Linked DNA regions of Homo sapiens. The protein of the gene in region 1 purifies or fractionates together with the protein of each later gene. This does not show direct contact. Each region holds a gene or a part of one and is shown in the gene's direction. Other genes may lie near its edges.

Region 1 (3,500 bases):
TTGGGAAACAAAAAAATTAGTGTGCCTTGCGTTATTGCATAATTTGCTTTATTGTGGTGGTCTGGAGCTGAACCTGCAGTATCTCTGAGGTATGCCTGTATATCCTTCCAGACTTTTTTCTCTTTTTATGTAATAAGTAATAACTAAGTTTGTAGATAGCTGGAGATATAGCTGCTTTTGCCTAACAGTATGCCTTCATTTTCCTTTACATATGTACAGCAACTTCAGATTGTCAAAATGTCCAGTGGTTTTTTTTTTTTTTTTTTGTGAGGATGTATAATAATTTTCCTATTGCTAGAAATGAGTTCCTTTTATGTCCATCTTACATATGCTAGTGGGCCTGAAGGATAGATTCCTGGAAGTGGAATTACTGAGTCAAAGGTTATATCCATGTTAAAACTGGACAGATTCTATTATGTTATCCTCCAAGTCTGCTATATTACTAGAGCATATATGTGTTTATTCTTTGAATTTTTTTGTAGTTTTAGTCATACATAACATTTTATACATTTTTAAACAGTGTATTGTTTTAATAACAATGTGTTGCTTTCCATAAATTTATGTTGTATTTATAATTATAACTTTGAAAATAGTCCTATCCCATCAGGAATATGTTTCATTATTTTCCTAGCCATTGCTGGACTTCTAGGCTGCCTCCCTTAAAAAATAAAAAATTATAAAGAATTCTGAAATGCACACATTCATGAATGTAGCTTTACCCTTTTAGGTAATCTTCTTAGAGTAAGTATTATAGGTTATAGGTAATCTTAGAGTAAGGGTTAAAGGTTAGGAATATTTTGTGACTTTGGGAAATCATAGTAATTTTTTTCCCGAAGTAATTCTGCCTGCCTTGACTTTTTGGTGTGCTGTTTTTATCTTAGTCTTACCAGCATTAGGTCCCATCTGTAACACGTTTTTCTCCTTTGCTAATTTGAAAGCAACAGTGGTAATTGAACCAAGTATTTGATAGGCATGCTGAAGGGAAAGCAGTAGGAGAGACTGGCCTGAGTGTTAAGGCACAGAAGAGTCGGGGGCTCGGGGAGATCTTGGCTCTGCTGGAACAATTAGTGAGGTGAAGAATTCTAGGACCTGGATGACATGCCAGGGAGTGTGATTTAATAGCTGATAGGGAGCCACTGCAGACTCTAAGCTGAGAAGTGCCTGAGTTCAAGGCTGCTGGTGACTGTGAAGGAGGAACGGGAGGAGGTGATAATGGCTGCGGCAGGAGCTGTGGACATGACAGAGAAGATGGGCTTCTCTTGTAGTCATCATAGGAAAAATTCTTGAGCTAGATAGGGCCTAGGTGGTGTAATTTGGAAACCAAGAATGACACATAGCTTGTGGCTGCCTCAGCAAAGTTCGAATCCCAGTCTTACAGGGATGTGGTGAGCTGACGTGCCCTCTTCCCTCTGCAGGTCCAAGACAAGCTGCTGCTATCTGCGTGCCACTTACTGGTCTCACTGGCCACCACCGTGCGGCCCGTCTTTCTGATCAGCATCCCTGCAGTGCAGAAAGTATTCAACAGAATCACTGATGCCTCTGCCCTGCGACTTGTCGATAAGGTGAGGCCCCAGAGCTCCCCCGGGGTCCCCAGGGCTGTGTGACTGAGACCCAAGGAAGCTGAGGAAGAAGAGTCTGGCCTTTGATTTTGTACTCAGAGCTTACAGGCTGTACCAGCATAGACAGATTTCTTATTGTGTGGCACTGACACAGACTCAGTGATTCTCATCGTGCCCATTCTAAGGCAGGCAGTCAGTGTGCTGATTGAGGCGTGGAAAAGCACCTCCCAGTGTGCAGAAAGGTTTTGCTGCTTTGCAGCCTGGTAATTTCGGCCAGTGTTGTGAGAATTCTCTTTGCATTCTTTCTGATTCAAAGCAGTCTGGTTTTTGTTGTCACTGTTCTGTGTGTGTTCTTTGGGGTTGAGAAGTGCCAGGCAAGTGCATTTTCTTAGAATCCTCAAAGGAGGCTCAAGCTAGAAGTTTAAAAACCACCTAACAGGAGGGAGGGCAGGAAGGTTTGAAGAGGGTACCAGAGGGCACCAGGATGTGATTGCAGGATGTGACCTGGTGCTAGGGGCATGGATTGTCACGGATTCTCCTGCAAGTCCTGCTCTAAGTAGCTTCTCAGAGGACTCAGAAGCCACCAGCTGAACAATGCCTGAGATTCAGTGTCTGCAGTGTGATTTTTCCCTCTCTAATACTTCAAGTATCAGATTAGAGAGGAAACGAGAGGTTAGCTCTGGGTTATGCTAGACCTAGACATGGTGCTATTACTTCATTTCATCTTCCTCCCTAAGTTGCCTTCCAGTTGGACCAAAGGCCTTGCCCAGGTTGCAAGAAACGAGCCTGGGGGCTAGGGTTCCAGGTGTGCAGCCAGCGGGTGCTGAAGGCTGTGTTGGGCATGCCGCACCACGGTCTTTGGCTCTGACCTCTGATGGATGCCTTTGGGGTCTCTTGTAGGCCCAGGTGTTGGTGTGCCGAGCCCTCTCTAACATCTTGCTGCTTCCGTGGCCAAACCTTCCAGAGAATGAGCAGCAGTGGCCCGTGCGCTCCATCAACCACGCCAGCCTCATCTCTGCACTCTCCCGGGACTATCGCAACCTGAAGCCCAGTGCTGTTGCCCCACAGAGAAAGATGCCACTGGATGACAGTAAGTGACCCCTAGGCTAGGACAGCTGGGGAAGGAGGTAGGCAGGCATTGTTCTTTGTGGCAGATGAGATTTGCCCCGGAGGCTCCTGAGGTAAATTTTTTTTGTTCATAGTCCCACAGAGGCTGAGCAGGAAGTCATACTTGGGGGTGGGATCCTGCTACCTTTGGAATTCAGTTAAGACAGCAGCCAGACCTATTTCCAGAATCAAACTGTCCCTTCTCTTATTTAAAATGTAAAAAATGCTGGAGCCCTAAGAAAAAATGGAAGACACTGGTGATGGTGCCTTCTGTCTATAAAATACATCTTAAGGTGGTTATTGATCTATTTCAGATGCTTGTGTAGGCAAACAAAGCAGTTCACCTCTACACGCTGGGAAAATGCGCTCAAGAACTATTTTTCCAGATTGGTTTCAACCTTTTTCCAAATACAGATCTTCCAGAGGTTTTGAAAGAGCTTAGTTTCTTAAAAAATGGCACTTGAAGTTTGCTTGTTTATATTAAAGAAAGAGGGAAAAAAATGAATAAGGAAATATCTCTTTGAAATAACAAATAGTACCGAAATATTTTAAAAATACGAGCTCCTTTCACAAAAAGAAAATAATAGAACATTATTAGATGGTGCCATTTATGGAATGTCAGCAAAAATGCTTTGTGAAATGTCAGAAATAGTAATAAATACTATACTCTTTAAAAAACACTACTTTTATAACTAGGAAGATTAACATATGTGCATTGTACAAATACATTAAAATAGAATAATACAAAGAAGGAAAAAGTAACTCCTAAATCTGACCAGTTTTAATATTTTAGAAAGTAACCATTTTAACCATGCTTCCTTCTTACCTTCCCTT
Region 2 (3,500 bases), on another chromosome or scaffold:
GGCAGTGATTTTGAGGCTGGATTGCTTTTTATCCTGTGTAATTTTTAGGAAGGCTGCTTTGGCAGTGATTTTGAGGCTGGATTGCTAAGGTAAGGGGAGACTATAGGCAGAGATGAGTTATGTCATTGTTTTAAACTAGGTGAGATGTGATCAGGGCCTGAAACTAAGGTGATGAGAATAAGAGAGGGAGAGGATATTAAGATGGTAGAATTAGGCTAGGTGCAGTGGCTCATGGCTGTAATCCCAGCACTTTGGGAGGCTGAGGCAGGTGGATCACTGGAGGTCAGGAGTTCGAGACGAGCCTGGTCAACATGGCAAAATGCTGTCTCTACTAAAAATAGAAAAATTAGCTGGGCATGGTGGAGCACGCCTATAATCCCAGCTACTCATGGGGCTGAGGCAGGAGAATCGCTTGAACCCGGGAAGCGGAGGTTGCAGTGAGCCAACACCATGCCGTTGCACACCAGCCTGGGTGACAGAGTGAGACTCATCTCAAGCAATAAATAAATTAAAATAAAAAACTAGCCAGATGTGGTGCCGCATGCCTATAGTCCCAGCCACTTGGGAGACTGAGGTGGGTGGAGGATTGCTTGAGGCTGGGAGGTCCAGGCTGCCATGAGCTATGACTGCACTGCTGCACTCTAGCTTGGGCAACAGAGTGAGATGCTGTCTCAAAAAAAAAAAAGAGAGAGAGAGAGAGAAGGTAAAATTAATGGAATTTAGTGATTGACTTGGGATAAAGGAGAAGGTGCTTTGAGGTTTAGGTCACTCTGCGGAAAGTGGTACCATTTACTGAAATAGGAAAATTCAGCAGGAACAGATTGTCTTTTCGGGGAGGTGGATGTGAGAGGTAGCAGGTTGGTGTCTTACTTAAAGTATATTCTCTAAGTGGCTGCCATCTTTTCATTGGCTTTGTGGTTATGGAATAAATCAGAGTCGTGGAAGTGAGAGAGAATAGGCTAGTTTAGATTGCTATAAAGTGAAAGAAAGAGAAACTGGTAATTTAGAGAGGAACATTGAGTAAGATTTAAAAAACTTGATTATGTATATATGATGAAGGGAAAGGTCTGTGGGGCTGCCTCTTCTGTTGACACATGAGGAAAGGATGAGTACATGGGAGTATATATACTTAGACGTAAATATATGAACACATGCCTCCTATAAGCTTACGAAAATGTTGGTATAGTTTTCTTCTAGGCGATTCCAAAAGGCTTATCTGAGTCTTTTCTAGTCTGGCTCTAACCAAGAGCCCTAGTGCTTTATTTTTAAGTAGGATAAGAGAAAGCTGAGCAAGTAATTTGACCAGTGGCTTTGATTTTTCTCAGTGAAGAGGAGCAGGGTCTTCCTGGAACAAATGGGGAAGTGGTGGGGCAGTGGGGAAAGTGGGAATATGTTGGAGGACCTGCCAAGAAGGGTGGGAGAAAGTGGAATTGGGACACACAAAGAGAATTGCTAACAGCGCGGAGGCCCCAGTTATCATTGGTGCTACTGCAAATTCATAGACTCCAGTCCGCATCAGCCTAGGTGTCAGAGTAGAGAAATGAAATGGCTAGACTGACCAGGGACCCAGAAGGAGAAGGAAGCAAAAGAAAGGTAATAGTAGGAGTAATAATACTAATGGGAGTCATAGTAGAGAGCAAATGAACTGATGGTTTAGAGGCTCCTAATGAAATAGGAAAGGCAGAGTGGAACTGATATATCAGTGAAAACAGAATGGTCAGGAGACTGGAAAGAGAGGTCCTGATAAGGCTGAAGAGTCAAGTGAGAGATTAGAAAGGGAGAGTTGAAAAAACAGGATGTATTTGTTAGGGAATAGGATATGGTGGTTTAAGGTCAAGGCAGCTTTGAGGATCACGTCCTGAGAGTGGGGAACTAAAGTAGAGTGGGGTGAAAGTCTTTGACGTATATATACTTTTTTGAGACGGGTCTCGCTCTGTTGCTCAGGCTGGAGTGCAGTGGTGCGGTCACAGCTCACTGCAACCTTGACCTCCTGGGCTCAGGTGATCCTCCCACCTCAGCCTGCCGAGCAGCTGGGACTACAGGTGCACACCACCACGCCTGGCTAGTTTTTGTATTTTTTGTGGAGATGAGGTTTCCCCATGTTGCCTAGGCTGGTCTCAAACTCTGGGGCTCAAGCGATCCGCCCACCTTGGCCTCCCGAAGTGCTGGGATTACAGGCATGAGCCACTGTGCCTGGCCTAAAAGAGCCCTGTTAGGAAGATTATCCAGCATAGGTTTGCAGGATGGGTTGGAAGCGGGAACAGACCGAGAAGAACATGTCTTAATATCTCATTTTCTGGCAGCAATCTTTTTGGGTTCCTTCCGCATGCCCTATCAAGAGATTAAGAATGTCATCCTGGAGGTGAATGAGGCTGTTCTGACTGAGTCTATGATCCAGGTAAGGAGTAAGGTGGTTCTGCTGGAGCAGGCTCTTCTGTGTCGCTGGGCACTGGCCTCATCTCTGTGTAGATGAAGAGGATCCTCCTCCAGCATTGCTGACTTATGAATGCTGGCTTTGAGAAACTGCCTTTTCTCTGGTGGTCAGATTACTTCTGGTATATTTTGCAAAAGTACCCCCATCTCAGTAGCTGCCTCTCTTCTCCCACCATATGTTTCTTTCTGTATGGTCCTTGAGCAGAGTGTGGGACTGACAACAGAGTAAAAGTTGTTTAGGCTTGAGTTGTTAGCGAATTCCCCTCCAGCTGAGATGTCTCTTCTGTCTTTCAGAACCTCATTAAGCAAATGCCAGAGCCAGAGCAGTTAAAAATGCTTTCTGAACTGAAGGATGAATATGATGACCTGGCTGAGTCAGAGCAGTTTGGCGTGGTGGTGAGTGAGGCCTGTGGCAGTAAGCGGTTTTCCACCTCCTGTATTCCCCTCCCCTCTAGAGAGCAGCCTGGGCATATGCTCCTTGCCGCTTGTCTGTTTTTGAACCTGTCTTAATCTCTCTCTTCTCCCTGCTCTGGAGCTGTGATCCTCCCATAGGAGGCTCAAGCGTGTATCTTTTTCTGACTTCCCCCTCTTTTGACTGTAATGGAACTGCTTGTGTTCTTTACTAGATGGGCACTGTGCCCCGACTGCGGCCTCGCCTCAATGCCATTCTCTTCAAGCTACAATTCAGCGAGCAAGTGGAGAATATCAAGCCAGAGATTGTGTCTGTCACTGCTGCATGTGAGGAGTTACGTAAGAGTGAGAGCTTTTCCAATCTCCTAGAGATTACCTTGCTTGTTGGAAATTACATGAATGCTGGCTCCAGAAATGCTGGTGCTTTTGGCTTCAATATCAGCTTCCTCTGTAAGGTGAGCCAAAGAGGTAGGGCAGGACAACACAAGGAAGGCTGTAGCCTCTATGAGTTCAGTGTTGGCAGGAGGCCATCTTGGACATGTCAGGATTTAACAGTTTCTCCTCTTTCTCTAAGCTTCGAGACACCAAGTCCACAGATCAGAAGATGACGTTGTTACACTTCTTGGCTGAGTTGTGTGAGAATGACTATCCCGATG
Region 3 (3,500 bases), on another chromosome or scaffold:
GCATGTTTTCACAGTCAAATAGAAAACCCCTTTTATTGGGAGGCCGAGGCAGGCAGATCACGAGGTCAGGAGATCAAGACCATGCTGGCTAACATGGTGAAACCCCATCTCTACTAAAAGTACAAAAAATTAGCCAGGTGTGGTAGCGGGCACCTGTAGTCCCAGCTACTCAGGAGGCTGAAGCAGGAGAATGGCATGCATGAACCAGGGAGGCGGAGCTTGCAGTGAGCCGAGATTGCGCCACTGCACTCCAGCCTGGGCGACAGAGCGAGACTCTGTCTTAAAAAAAAAAAAAAAGAAAGAAAAAAAAAGAAAACCCCTTTTAGGGAGAAAAAAGAGAATGAGCATCCTCTGATTTAATCTCGTAAGTCAGAATTTATATTTAATTGGAAGACAATTAGAAGGGTGTTTATTTTACTTTTTTCATTTTCTCTGAATCAAATATTTGCTAGGCCAAGCACAGTGGCTCACATCTACAATCTCAGAACTTTGGGAGGCCAAGGCAGGAGGATTACTTGAGCCCAGGAGTTTGAGACCAGGCTGGGCAACATAGCGAGACCACATCTTTACAAAAACATTAAAAAATTAGCTGGCATAGTGGTACACCTTGTAGTCCTAGCTACTTGGGAGACTGAGGTGGGAGGATCACTTGAGCCCAGGAGTCTGAGGCTACAGTGACGTGCCACTACACCCCATGCTGGGTGACAGAGCAAGGCACTGTCTGTAGAAAAAAAATAGTGCTAAGTTACTCTTGTAAACATTAATTAAAAGAATTTGTTTAAACAGTTGGAGAATAAATGTTCCTGCTCCTCAAAGGAAGTCATTAGCACAAAATTATATAATAGTTACCAGATATTCTCATTTATTCATTAATACAAAATCTTAATTTAGGAAAGTTCTGAAAGTACTTCAAGGCAACAAAGATGAGCATTTCTTTTTAAAAATTTCAGAGGCCAGGCATGATGGCTCATATCTATAATCTCAACACTTTGGGGCCAAGATGGGAGGCTCACTTGAAGCCAAGAGTTCAACATCAGTCTGGGCAATAAAGCAAGACCTTGTCTCTACAAAAAATATAAATAAACAGCCAGGCATGGTGGTGCACACCTGTGGTCCCAGATACCTGGGGGGCTGAGACAGGAGGATCACTTGACCTGAGGCTGTGGTGAGCCTTGAACACCACTACACTCCAGCCTGGCAACAGAGTGAAAGCCTATCTCAAAAATAATAATAATAATAATAATAATACATAAAACAAAACAAAAAACTGGGCCATTGTCAAAGAAAATGAATTTTGAATTGTGTTTACAATAATGGTAGGTTGCTAGCCATATTTGTCTGCCTTGTAACAAGTTGCTGCTATTTGGGCACTATCTGGTGAAGGTACCACCAAGTATTGAAGAATCTGAGTCAACAGAGATCTGTCTTCCTCTTCACGAAGTCTGTTTACCCACTCAGATCTTAAACTCTTAGTCCCCTTCCCAGTGACTTCATGCCCTCCCCAATTGAACTGTTCTTCCATGGGAAACAACATAAGCATACACTTACAGAAGAAAATCTTACAAAAAACGTATATAAATTATGGTTAAGAAAGTGCAAGCGCATTTAGTCTAATGTACTAAAACTACACTGAGATACGGTTTTTCACCTTTCAGACTGGCAAAGGCCCCAACATTTAAGAGCACACATTGACAAGGCTAGGAGGAAACAGGCACACTCATGTATTGCTGATAGGAGAATGAATGGGGACAGCCCTTATAACTGGCAATGTGGAAGTTATCTATCAAAATTACAAAGACTCTTACTCTTTTTTTGAGACAGAAACTCATTCTGTTGCCCAGGCTGGAGTACAGTGGCAGGATCAGGGCTCACTGTAGCCTCAACCTCCTGGGCTCAGGCGATCATCCCACCCAAGTAGCTAGGACTACAGGTGCATACCGCCACACCCAGCTAATTTGTTTTACTTTTTGTAGAGGAGGGGTCTCACTATGTTGCCCAGACTGGTGCTGAACTCCTGGGCTCAAGCGATCCTCCTGCCTCAGCCTCCCAAATTGCTGGGATTACAGGACTGGCCAACTTTTATCTTTTGACACAACAATCTCACTTCAGTGAATTTATCCAAAAGATATGGTGTCATTCATAGTGTGAATTGCCACGTGGACGAGCTTCTTCACTGCAGCATCATTTATAACAGCAAATAGTATAAATAAATTATAATACACTTATAAAAGGACTTGAAGGAGCTGAGAAAGAGAATAAATAAATGAATAAATAAGGGAAATCTTTATGTACAAACATGAACAAATCTCCAGTAAACATTGTTAAGCAGCAGAGACAAAAAACATGCAAAAGAGTGTGCATATTTCTTTTTTTTTTTTGAGATGGAGTCTTGCTCTGTCACCCAGGCTGGAGTGCAGTGGCGCTATCTCGGCTCACTGCAACCTTTGCCTCCCAGGTTCATGCCATTCTCCTACCTCAGCCTCCTGAGTAGCTAGGACTATAGGCACCCACCACCACGCCCGGCTAATTTTTTGTATTTTTAGTAGAGACGGGGTTTCACCATGTTAGCCAGGATGGTCTTGATCTCCTGACCTTGTGATCCGCCCGCCTCAGCCTCCCAAAGTGTTAGGATTACAGGCGTGAGCCACCGCGCCTGGCCAAGTGTGCATATTTTTTAATGGAAAAGGCAAGAACATATAAGCAAATGTTCATATTTGCTTTGTTTGTATAAAATAACTCTAGTACGTAAGAAATCTCTCTGACTCTCAGCCTTCACATCTGTGGATTGGAGAATATAATTCTGTTTATGTCATATATAAACTTGTTATGGATTTTTAAAATGTCTTGCAAAGTGGTAGCCACAGGGCAGAAATTCAATGGACAGTCATTCCTCTGTTTCTGTTTCTCTTCAGATTACTACTGTCATAACCATCTAACTCAGGAGTTAGCAATCTATGGCTTGTGGGCCAAATACAGCCTCCCACCTGTTTTTGTAAATAAAGTTTTATTGGAACACAGCCACACTCCATTTATGTATGTGTATGGCTGCTTTTGACTACAATAGCAGAGTTCAGTTGTTGCAACAGAGATTGTATGACCCACAATCCCAAAACATTTACTCCCTGGTCCTTTATAGAAAACATTTGTCAACTCCTGGACTAACTGGTCATGGCCCTTCCCAGTGCAATTCTCAAAATACAGGGTGATGAATCTTCCTAAGCCAGATCTCTCTCCTACACTGTAAATGCCCAATCTTGGTTAACTCATGCCTTCTCTTGTATATTTACAAAGGTCTTCCAAAAGCAGCCATGATCACTCATCAGCGCATATGGTATGGAACTGGCCTCACTTTTGTAAGCGGATTGAAGGCAGATGATGTCATCTATATCACTCTGCCCTTTTACCACAGTGCTGCACTACTGATTGGCATTCACGGATGTATTGTGGCTGGTAAGCTTTTTCTACAAAATGTTGGAGGCGAGTGCACATTTACATTTTCC
Region 4 (2,795 bases), on another chromosome or scaffold:
GTGAAGAAGCCCTTCTTTCAATTCCTGGGCAGAATTCAGTGGTTTTCATATCATCTGAACCTGCTGTGCTGCTGTTTATTCTATCACTGTCAGCCTTGAAAGGAAAAAAGGAATAATCTTACCCTCCTGCCCTTCTTATTTTATATCTTCCATCTTATCCATCTATATCCATGTAGTCATTCCTTCCGAGTTCCCTGGTTTTAATCCAAAAGACTCTGTTTAACAGCAATGTCTTGGCAGACCAGGTGCCGCTTCCGTGCCATTTGAGGGCTCTGAGTCTTTGCTTCGTCTTAGGAAGATAAAGATAATTTGGCAGAAAGTCAGAGATGGAAATAGCAGTTTGGGATGATAAAAGATGGGTCCTGTTTTGCTGACATTCTTTTACTTTGGTTCTTGGTGCGTGTCCTTTGGGATTCATTTCTTGCTAGCATGAATAGGACATGCTTTTCGTTAGGTGCTTTTCTTTTTTGGAGAACATGAAGTGTTTCTAACAAAACTGAATGAGCTAGAAAGAATTCTATTTTGAGACATCTGTAGTTGATGCAAAGTATTTCTGTAATCCTCAATGACAGTACTTACATATTTGCATAGAATTTTTTTTTTAATTTTTGAGGAAACCTCTCTGGAGTCTGTATTTATAGGAGCATCCTGAAAGTCCCTATTATGTAGCTGGTGGGAGCGAGAGAGGGACAGCCACACTCGTGCTGTGAGCAGAGCACAACTTCAGGCAGAGTGAATGCCTTCTGAGTTCTCATTGGAAGCTTTCTGTTGCTCAGCCTCTGGCAGATTTCAGAACCTTCTACTTAAGCCAGGTGTGGTGGTGCGTGCTCCTAGGCACAGCGACTCGGGGGGCTGAGGCAGAAGGATCACTTGAGCCCAAAGTTGGAGGCCAGCCTGGGCAACATAGCGAGGCCTGTCTCCTTAAAAAATAAATAAATAAATAATAAATAAATAAATAAATAAAAACCTTGTCCTTGACTATTGTGCTGTCTGCTGCCCCTTTGTAGGGATGGGGTTGGGGTCAGAATAAGCATGTGCATGAATGGCGGAAAGCTTTGGTGGTGTTTGTTTGTTTGTTTGTTTTTTGAGAGGTGGGGGAGTCAGCAGTGAACCTTTCTGGTTAAAGAACAACGTACATAATTTCTATTATGAGATTTAGAAGGTTAAATACTTTTTTTTTTCAGGCCTACCAAGTTGATAGACCAAAAGTATATAGTAGAACAGCACAGTAGAAAAAATTTAAAAGTGAATTTCTTATGGTCCAAAAGGATGGATAGTCACAGTCCATAACCTTTCATAATATATGCTGGAATTGGAATCTCTTGTCATCTTGCTTTGCTCTGAATTTTAGAACTAGAAGTGTGCATGTATGTCAAAAGATTATGCAGAGCTATTTTCTTTGCTAACAATGTAAACATTTGCACCCCATGAATGGGACTTTATAATCTGGAAGTGAGCCTAAGGTTGCGTATACTGAAGTCATGTTTTAAAAGTTAAGGTTGACTTAAACATATACAAGGCTGTATTTTAATTGTAACTAGAAATCATTTACTATGCATACAGAACCTCATGTATCTTATCATGGAATTTGTGAATTAATGGGCCTTGCCGAATTCAAGGGTAAGGGAAACTGGTAACAACTTGTTTTAAATCAACATACTATAAGCTCCTGCTTGCTTGACTCAAGTTGTTTGAAAATCTGAATTAAACAGGATCTCATTGTCAGGAAACATCTTCTAAGCTTGACATCTACGTTTAAGAAGGGAACGTGGAAGAGAAGGTGAGACATGAAACTAAAACAGCTGGGAGGGTAGGATCAGACTGCACCTGATTTTTGGACCAAAGTTTCATATAGGAATAAATAAAAAGGAGGACCACTTGTGAGCCAACCTAGGAAGGACTTGCCAGAAAGTAGCAGCTCCTGCTGCAAAATACAGTGCCTTCAAAATGATTCTCTGTGTGAATTGCATGCAATTTCATGTAACCATAAAGTGTAACCTGTATGTGCATGACATGTGTCTAGAATGTGTAAAGTTAGGATTCAGCAGGAAGGGGCCTGGCCCTGTCACTGTGGTGGATCAGTGGACCTGCTGAAGTCACTGGACTCATGTGACTTAGGTTTGCAGCATCAGACCCCTGTGTTTGCATTAAGTGGCCACATCGTTGAAATCGGATCAATCTCTCCCTCAGCTTTCTTTCCTACTTTGCAGCTTTGCTGGTTTTAACTGCTTCATTCTTCTGCTTCTTGGTATCCTTTTTTCTTTTGAAATAAAAACATGAAATACTTAATTCAAATGAGATTTGTATTTATTTTACCAGTTGCTCTTAATTTACCAAAGGTATACGACATGAAAAGAGTTGCATTCTTTTGTCTTGGTTGTGATTCTGACCTTAAAATACGCTCAGTTCTAAAAGCTTGAGGAGCGTTCTATACTGGTCCTTCTGCATTTCAGCCTGTCACCAAGGGGAGTGTTTTGCGATCCGCCATCCTTTCCCTGAATGCTGCTGCTCCTCTATGACGGAAAGCTTGGTGACCTCTTCATTGGAGGCGTCCAAAGCCAGTGAACAGCCTGTTGGTAAATGAACGAGCTGCATGTACGTGCTATTTTCCTCCAGGACCAAATGCCCTGTGCATTTTAGTATTAAGCGTACTTACTGCAGGAACCAGTACTGGGACCACTGCAAAACTACACAATGGTGCAAGTGCTTTGGGGCTTTGAAGAGCTGAAGACAGACATAAGACTTAGTGTTCTCAGGCCGGGCATGGTGGCTCATGTCTGTAATCCCAGCATTTT

What was found.
Region 2: the proteins of XPO6 (region 1) and DIAPH1 purify together in Homo sapiens (affinity purification with mass spectrometry, with the first as the bait; one study listed by BioGRID). This does not show direct contact.
Region 3: the proteins of XPO6 (region 1) and SLC27A2 purify together in Homo sapiens (affinity purification with mass spectrometry; one large-scale study listed by BioGRID and IntAct). This does not show direct contact.
Region 4: the proteins of XPO6 (region 1) and ENAH purify together in Homo sapiens (affinity purification with mass spectrometry, with the first as the bait; one study listed by BioGRID). This does not show direct contact.

What each region holds. Positions count from the first base shown.
Region 1 is NC_000016.10:28,110,966-28,114,465, reverse strand, and holds part of XPO6 (exportin-6), read left to right. Parts: intron 1-1,415; coding exon 1,416-1,562; intron 1,563-2,459; coding exon 2,460-2,649; intron 2,650-3,500. UniProt on the Homo sapiens protein: Mediates the nuclear export of actin and profilin-actin complexes in somatic cells.
Region 2 is NC_000005.10:141,528,501-141,532,000, reverse strand, and holds part of DIAPH1 (protein diaphanous homolog 1), read left to right. Parts: intron 1-2,303; coding exon 2,304-2,398; intron 2,399-2,727; coding exon 2,728-2,829; intron 2,830-3,059; coding exon 3,060-3,299; intron 3,300-3,418; coding exon 3,419-3,500. UniProt on the Homo sapiens protein: Actin nucleation and elongation factor required for the assembly of F-actin structures, such as actin cables and stress fibers. Binds to the barbed end of the actin filament and slows down actin polymerization and depolymerization.
Region 3 is NC_000015.10:50,199,196-50,202,695, forward strand, and holds part of SLC27A2 (long-chain fatty acid transport protein 2), read left to right. Parts: intron 1-3,291; coding exon 3,292-3,450; intron 3,451-3,500. UniProt on the Homo sapiens protein: Mediates the import of long-chain fatty acids (LCFA) into the cell by facilitating their transport across cell membranes, playing an important role in hepatic fatty acid uptake.
Region 4 is NC_000001.11:225,486,329-225,489,123, reverse strand, and holds the end of ENAH (protein enabled homolog), read left to right. Parts: 3' UTR 1-2,295; downstream 2,296-2,795. UniProt on the Homo sapiens protein: Ena/VASP proteins are actin-associated proteins involved in a range of processes dependent on cytoskeleton remodeling and cell polarity such as axon guidance and lamellipodial and filopodial dynamics in migrating cells.